Homo sapiens: one gene and its partner. The protein of the gene in region 1 interacts with the protein of each later gene in a pairwise test. Each region holds a gene or a part of one and is shown in the gene's direction. Other genes may lie near its edges.

Region 1 (3,806 bases):
TGGAAAGAAAATAAAATGTTTTGAGAGTGAAGGTCAGGATGTATTTGTTGCTTTGAGTTTTCTTGGCTCCTTTATGTTTTTAAGACTTGGAGCTGCTTGTTTCATTTGCATGTCAGGAGGGATTATTTAACTAACCAACATAACACTCATTTTTCTTGGCATCTCCCAGGTGATGTCCTTGCAAATATCAATGGTGTGAGCACAGAAGGTTTTACCTACAAACAAGTCGTTGACCTGATCAGATCGTCCGGAAACCTGCTAACGTAACTATCTGTCTAGTTCCCGTGGGGCTTCAAAATGTTATGTTTTCTCATAAAGCCTGATGAGTGAATAAATAGGCCTTTTGTTCAGCATTACAAGACGGAGTGAGGCAGTGCACCGGAGCTTTAGAGTGGGGTACAAACATTATCAGTTCCTTTTGTTTCTCAAGATTCCTCACACTTGAACATACTGTCAACATCTGAAGTCAGAGGACATCAATAGCCCAAACGTCTGTGTGGGAAGGATGGCCTTTACAAATGTATTTTTTTAATGTCAAATTCAATTAAACTGGCACACATTCTCTTTAAACTGGGAAGAACTGATCCAATTTTCATGGTTGATATAATCCTGTAGCTAAAACAAATCAAAGGTCAGAAGGGCTGAGTTTTTCCTCTTATGTGACAAGCCACCTGTTTTTCTCTTCTAGTGTTCCATTTGGAAGGAAGAATAGTCTGTTCAACCCTCCCCACCCTGAAACACACATACTCACACCACATGTTCCAAATGTTCCAAACTTCTTTTTTTTTTTTTTTTTTTTGAGACGGAGTCTCGCTCTGTCGCCCTGGATGGAGTGCAGTGGCGCGATCTTGGCTCACTGCAAGCTCTGCCTCCCAGGTTCACGCCATTCTCCTGCCTCAGCCTCCCTAGTAGCTGGGACTACAGGCGCCCACCACCATGCCCGGCTAATTTTTTGTATTTTTAGTAGAGACGGGGTTTCATCGTGTTAGCCAGGATGGTCTCAATCTCCTGACCTCATGATCCACCCGCCTCCGCCTCCCAAAGTGCTGGGATTACAGGCATGAGCCACCGCCCCTGGCCCCAAACTTCTTAATAGAACACTGGCTTTCCCAATTAGAGGTTTGACTGATTTTTCTACCATAACAATACTAGCACCTAATAAAATCTTATTAGGATAGTTAAATGATGAAATTCGCTCATTCATTAAAATCATATTTATTGAGCAAATACTATGTTTCCAGCTCTGTGATAGGCTCAGGAGAGACGAAGATAAAGACTCTCTTAGTACGTTAATAGTTATGGAAGGAAATGGCTCAGAAAAGCCTGAAATTTAAGTAATGTGTATATTTCAGTTATTGATAACTACTATGAGAAAAGTGCAAAACAGCAATGGCCTGTCATGCTAGGTAAGAAGGCTGCTAGTTTGGCTTAGATGTGTAAAGTGGTCTTTTCTAGGGAGGCGATATTTGAGTTGAGATCTAAATGAAGAGAAGGATGGTCAAATGAACTCCTCGTAAGAGCACTTCAGGCAAAGAGAGAGGTCTCTGAGTGCTCACAATGGGCTTGGCATGTACAAGGGAAAGAGAAAAAGACAGTATAATTGGTATTTGATGGATTAGAGAGGGTATAATAAGAAATGAAGCCAGAGAGTTGGCCTGGGGGCAGACCATGGATCTCTTTGGACATGCCAACAAGTTTGGGTTTTATTCTGATTGAGGTGGGTCATATATTGTGTCATTTATTCTTCACAGCCACCCATGAGGTTAATTTTATTCCTATTTATAGATGAAGTGCCTGAAGCTTAGAGGGGGCTTAGTTAAGGTCACATAACTGGTAAGTGATAGGGCTGGGGTTTGACCACCTGCTCTGGATGCCAGGATCTGTCCTTTTCAGCTACAGCTGCTCCTTGGAAGCTGCCAGTAGAAAATCTGCTGGATGCTTTTCAGTGATTCTGGTGTAAAACTTCAAAGGATGCTTTGGGTGTTTGTGAGAGCAGATTTGAAAGATGGTGGTGGTAACAAATTGGGTCCAACTCTATAGGTCCTGTGAGTTCAGGGTAAAGGATGAGGTGCTTTTGCTCTAGAGAACCCTGGATCCAAAGGAGAGGAACCGTGCAGAGTCTGAGGGGAACTGCTGGTAGTTAGAGTCAGAAAGCATGTTCCACATGGGTGAAGAGGGTAGACCACAGGTAAATAGGGGTTGTAGATGGAGGTAACTGTTGGAAATCCGGGAAAATGGGAGACAGTCTGTACAAATACTGAGGAAAATGGCCAAATCAATGGTTGCAGTTTTGCCCATACACATCTATTGCTTCAGCAGGTCAAACTGACATTCAATCCCAATGAAACAGATTCATATGGATTCCCACTATTTCTCAGAGAGTCAAGATCACCTTAAGGAGAAAACAGACAGTATATAGCTTGCTACCACCTGATTATTCCTGGCATGATGCTATTAGAAGTAGAAGACTGATCTCCACATTTAATGCTTTTACCATGCCTTGAAAAATTCCTTGCATCTTTATAGAGAGGTACAGCTTAATTACAAGAAGGAACTTGAACCAACACTTTAAAAATTGGTGTGTGATTCACAAATGAAATTTTTAAATCATATTCAGATTGATGGTTTAGTAGTCAAAATAAAAGCCTTTAACTTGAACACACAGAACAAATCAAATCACTCAGAATAGAACAAGTATTTTATTTTTAGAAATGTGTGTGGTGTGGGAAGAACAGAACACTGGTAAGTTGATAATTCTAGGATTAGAGTTTGTAAACTGAATGTTTTGAGATAAAGAATCATATGAAGGTTATTATGTCATAGTAGTTGTACTTCTGTTTCTTCTAGTACCAAAATTATAAGGAGATTTACAGAGGTAAAGGCTCCTAGAATCCTATGGAGGAAAGGATTTCTCCCTCTTTCAAGAAGTAGCATGTTAATTCCATGGTTGTGAAAGCCCCTAGAGCCTATTATTTCTGTTGTTGTGCCCCTTGTGTTCAGCATGGTTTCTAGAATCTGGTACATAGTAGATGCCCAATAAATATTTACCAAATGAGTGAGGTCATTCAGCCCATCCCCACAAGAACAGATTCTAGTAGAGAGCAGCCATCATTGTCACATAGTGACTTCTATAAAATAAGCTATAGTTTACAAATTAACTAGGATCCTTTCTTTTAGCCACCTTCTCAAGGGGAGTTTTCCCCCATTTTCTTTCTCTGTTATCAGAAGATTTGGCTTTGGTCCAGCTACTCGAAGTGCCATGAGAACTGTAACATTTGTATTTCGTTTTTAGTATAGTATGTGCTCAAAGTGTAGTACTCTGTAGTATGGTACTTATTTAAACGAATCACTCATGTTACTCACTCCCCACCTTCCTCTTCTTTTTTTTTTCCTTAAAACAGGATAGAGACTCTTAATGGAACAATGATTCTGAAAAGAACGGAGCTTGAAGCAAAGCTGCAGGTTTTAAAGGTAATTTAATTTAATGCAGTGAGGCACATTTTTCATCCTTGAATGTGTGAGTGGTAAAATAAAGATCTATTTGAGGAACTGAGATAGCCCTTGAAAAAGAAATGTCGTGGTGAATCTAAACTGCTGAATTATCAAGAGCCGCACAATTACCTTTGGAGGAATATCAAATTCTGCAAACCAGTGTAAATCACTTTCTTCCTTCCTCCTTCTGTGTGTCTATGAGGCTCAGAAAGGCAACAGGAAGGCATGCCACTTGAAGAACTCTTCATTAGTGCACCTGTGATCTCTATTGATTTACATTTTGTTTGGAATTAAAACAAAAAAGGTCATTATTT
Region 2 (4,466 bases), on another chromosome or scaffold:
GAGGGCTTAAAGGAAAATCAAATGTCAGCGATGGCTCGGGTTCTCCTCCGCTCCCCACCACAGCCCGCCCTATCATCCAAGTGCAGAAAAAAACGGATGAGAATTAAGCTAAAAGCCAGAGAGAGAGAGAGAGAGGGACAGAGGAATTCTTTTTGTCCTGTCTTTAATAGTAGTAGTAGTATCAGTATTAGTATTCGCATTATTAATGTGCCTGTTCCCAACCCTTCATCCCCTCCCCCCAGTTTTGTCTTGAAGTTTCCTGCGGAGGCAGCCCGATCTGTCTGCTACCCACCCACCAGCATCCAAGAGTTATGCAGATGTTTATGGCTGAAAAAAAAAAATCCCAGTTATGCATCCTTGTATTTTTAAATACTGACTGTAAGTGATTCAAGTATAATCCTTTGTAAAATGCTTTTCTCTTTGACACATTGAAGGGAGTTGAGAGAGGAAAACCCGGCGTGGATTCCCCCTCCCTGGCCCCTCTCTCACCCACCACCTTCGCCCCAATTCTGCCAGCGTTGGGGCCCCTGGAAATCCCTGGGAACCTGCACCCAGGCAGGGAAGGCGTCCGTGCTGGCCCAGGCTCGACCCAACATCAGTTGGAGTTGGGTTTTAGTTCTCGGCGCTGGAAACTGTTTGGGAAGAAAGGCGCTCTCTCTAAGGTTCACTCTCTCACCTTTGCTCAAGGGAGCCAGGTCATGAGAATTCAGAATTTTAGACGCTTAGATTTGGCTGCAGCCGAATTTGGGTTCCTTCCACCCTGGAGAGGTCAGGGATCCCTGAGGGTTCTGCTCCCTAGCTGCGATTGGAAGGTGAACAGCCTCAGGGTGAAGGCCTAACAGATACGAATTTGTGGGGGAAAGAGGGAAGAGAGTCCAGGGAGAAAGAGGAGGCCCCCAGACTCGTCCCCAGTCGCCCCTCCTCGCTGCTGATACTCGCCTGTCCCTTCCCACCCAGTAAATGCTCTAGGGAAGGCCGCGCGCCTATGGCAGAGCTTTGTCTGTAAGGAGGCTTTTTCCCATTCCAGAGTTTAAAACGGAGAGGAGAGCGGTTGGGGGACGCTACAAACAAGAGAGACACAGTCGGGCTCAGGGTGAAGATAGACAGCGCAATGCCTTGGGCCGCAAGAGAAAAGCGAACTCCCAGACGGCAGATGTTTGCTTGGGGCGGTCACCCTGGCCCCCCGACGCCCGTCCGGCCTAGAGAGGACGGCAATTGAGCGCCAGGGAGGTCAAGGCGGTGTCCTGGGAGCCCAATATCGGCTTTGAAAAGTGCCGAGTGAGTCTGAACGTGAGCCTCGAGGCCTCGCCTCCAGGGAGCGAGGTCCTCGGGTTGGTGGAAGGGGCGCACGCCACCCAGATGGCATTCACAGGCCTGGCATCCCAATAAGCTAGAACTTCGGCCAACACTAAAGGGTCAAAGGAGGAGCTGCAGGAAGAGGATAGCGGACTTAGAAAATTGGTAACTTAAAAAAAGAAAGAAAGAAAAGGAAAATTGGCTCTGGTGCGTGCCCGCTGCCCCCACCCCCGCCTGCCCCTCTGGAATCCAGTCCGGGCTTTGCGCCGCGCCCACAGGCCGACGCAGCCCGGCCTCTGGCGAGAGCCAATCAGAGGGCGCCTCTCAGCACGTGGAGGAGAGAGACTCCAGAGCTCAGCGCCCGCTGCTCACTACACTTGTTACCGCTTGTCCTGAGCGCGGAGAGGGCGAGCTCGGGCCGCGGGCAGGGCGGGAGCCGGCAGCCGGCAACCAAGGGAGGCAGAAAGGCACAAAGATCGCAATAATATCCGTTATAACCCGCTATCTAACCCCACCCCCAACACACACCCATCCATCCCACCCTCCGGGAGAGGCAGCCGGCGATCCGCTCTCTGCGCCCTGGGAAAAAGCCCCAGCCATGAGCAATCAGTACCAGGAGGAGGGCTGCTCCGAGAGGCCCGAGTGCAAAAGTAAATCTCCAACTTTGCTCTCCTCCTACTGCATCGACAGCATCCTGGGCCGGAGGAGCCCGTGCAAAATGCGGTTGCTGGGAGCCGCGCAGAGCTTGCCTGCTCCGCTGACCAGCCGCGCCGACCCGGAAAAGGCCGTGCAAGGTAAGGATGCTCCCGTCAGGCACTTACTAAGGGCATTGGGCCCTGATTTGGATGTTTGGTGTTCGGGGGCCAGTGGCCTGGAATTGTCAATTTGGAGAGGAAGGAAGGAGAGGGCATAACTCTGAGGCCTGCTGCCTCAAAGAGCGTTAAACATCTAGCCAGGGCTGTCTCTCCCTCCCTCCCTCCCTGCTTCCAGAAAAAGGCCCGTTTTCGCTTAGGGAGCCTTTAGCTTTTCGGTGTTGATCGTTAGGTTGTTTAAATGCCCCTTTTGGTGGCCTTGGGTGTGCTCTGAAGAGCGGCGACAGGTCAGAAACAGTAGATGGCCGGTGGACCCTTGTAGCACCAACTTGATGAAGACAAGAAGCCCAAAAGCTGGTGAATCGGGGTCTCCAGGCTGAGTGAGCCTTGGCCTTTCCTCTTTGGAAGATTTCTGTATATGCAATGTTTTGGTTTTATTTTTTTAATTGCAGATTACTTGTGACCTTTTAAACCCAAGCTTTGCAGAAAACATCTTCCTGGGATTCTCCAAATGCTCCTTAATGTATTTAAAATGTATGAAATGTGTGACTTCTGGATGCTAATTTTTTCTCTGCTATTTTATTTTTTAAAATAGACGAGCTGTTTAAAATATTTTATTTTTTTCTGAAATTAAAAATTCCAGAACAAATGTCCTTTTACCCCGAACCTGTTATCCTCAAGTTTCGCCTCGAGCTTGCTGCAGAGGTGTCGCAGGGAAAGGAAAGAACTGTTGGTTTCTTTTAAAATCCAAAAACCAGCGGTCCGGCCATAGCGCAATTTGGATGGCAGGAGCAGACGGTTGAGAAGGGGGCATTTAAATAAAACTGACTTTTTTCTTTTCTTTTTTTAGCCTGCAGTGGCACCTATGCCAGGCGCTTCCTCAAAAGGAAGGAGCGGCCTGCGCCTGCTGCACTCCCACTCCCTCTCTGCCCCAGACCTTTCCCAGAACATTTTTGCCAGGATGATTTTTCTTTGCCTTTTTGTGCAAGAAGCCCCCCCACCCTCTCCCGCTGTGGGCTGTTGGGGCGCGGCCTGCACTTGGGGCCACAGGGCCGCTTTCCCCCACCCCGCCCCGCAGCGGTCGCCTTCAGGGCTGCACCCCTCTTGCCAACCCTTGCCCTCATGGTGGAGCAGCGGGCAGAGGTCATGCGCAAAGTTTTCAGGATAGTGGTGATTTTCTTTTAAAGTTGTAGAATGTTTTCGGATTTTCCTCTGCCCCGACGTGGGAAGGGAAATAAAAATGAGAGAGTAGGAAAGGGGAAAGAGAAAGGAATAAAGAAGAAAGAAGGAGAGAGGGGAGAGAAAGCCTGCAAAAAGAGAAAGAAAGGGGGAGAGAAGGAGAAAGAGAGGTGAGGAAAAGAAGGGAGGGGGAGAAAGAAAAAGAAAAAAGGTAAGGAGAGAAAAGGAAGGGAGAGAGGGGCAAGAGGAATAGATAAGGGAAGGAAGATAGGAAATAAAAGGGGGAGAGTGAGAGAGGGAACGGAAAGAAGGGAGAGGAAAGGGGAAAAAAGAAGGAACCCAGAGAAAGGGAGAAGGAGAGAAAGAAAGAAAAAGAAAAAGCAAGAAAAGTGGAGAAAGAGGCCAAGGCGTCGAAGTCTGGTGGTGCGCGGTCCCCGCACGCCTGGGCCTAGGCACTGGGGGAGCAACTGCGGGCGGGCCCCGGCAGCAGCCCTGGCTGGGACTCCCCGGCCGGCCGGCTGGCTGATAGCTCTCCCTTGCCCGCAGGCTCCCCTAAGAGCAGCAGCGCCCCGTTCGAGGCCGAGCTGCACCTGCCGCCCAAGCTGCGGCGCCTGTACGGCCCGGGCGGGGGCCGCCTCCTTCAGGGTGCGGCAGCGGCGGCGGCGGCGGCGGCGGCGGCGGCGGCAGCGGCCGCCACGGCCACGGCGGGTCCACGCGGGGAGGCCCCTCCGCCGCCACCGCCAACCGCGCGGCCCGGGGAACGGCCGGACGGCGCAGGGGCCGCCGCGGCAGCCGCGGCCGCGGCCGCCGCGGCCTGGGACACGCTCAAGATCAGCCAGGCGCCGCAGGTGAGCATCAGCCGCAGCAAGTCGTACCGCGAGAACGGGGCGCCCTTCGTGCCGCCGCCGCCCGCGCTGGACGAGCTGGGCGGCCCGGGGGGCGTCACGCACCCGGAGGAGCGCCTCGGCGTGGCCGGCGGCCCGGGCAGCGCCCCGGCTGCGGGTGGTGGCACCGGCACCGAGGACGACGAGGAGGAGCTGCTGGAGGACGAAGAAGATGAGGACGAGGAAGAGGAACTGCTGGAGGACGACGAGGAGGAGCTGCTGGAGGACGACGCCCGCGCGCTGCTCAAGGAGCCCCGGCGCTGTCCTGTGGCCGCCACTGGCGCCGTGGCCGCAG

What was found.
Region 2: the proteins of CYTIP (region 1) and ARX interact in a two-hybrid assay, tested with the Homo sapiens proteins (one large-scale study listed by BioGRID and IntAct).

What each region holds. Positions count from the first base shown.
Region 1 is NC_000002.12:157,427,016-157,430,821, reverse strand, and holds part of CYTIP (cytohesin-interacting protein), read left to right. Parts: intron 1-169; coding exon 170-263; intron 264-3,401; coding exon 3,402-3,471; intron 3,472-3,806. UniProt on the Homo sapiens protein: By its binding to cytohesin-1 (CYTH1), it modifies activation of ARFs by CYTH1 and its precise function may be to sequester CYTH1 in the cytoplasm.
Region 2 is NC_000023.11:25,013,166-25,017,631, reverse strand, and holds the start of ARX (homeobox protein ARX), read left to right. Parts: upstream 1-1,666; 5' UTR 1,667-1,894; coding exon 1,895-2,090; intron 2,091-3,833; coding exon 3,834-4,466. UniProt on the Homo sapiens protein: Transcription factor. Binds to specific sequence motif 5'-TAATTA-3' in regulatory elements of target genes, such as histone demethylase KDM5C. Positively modulates transcription of KDM5C.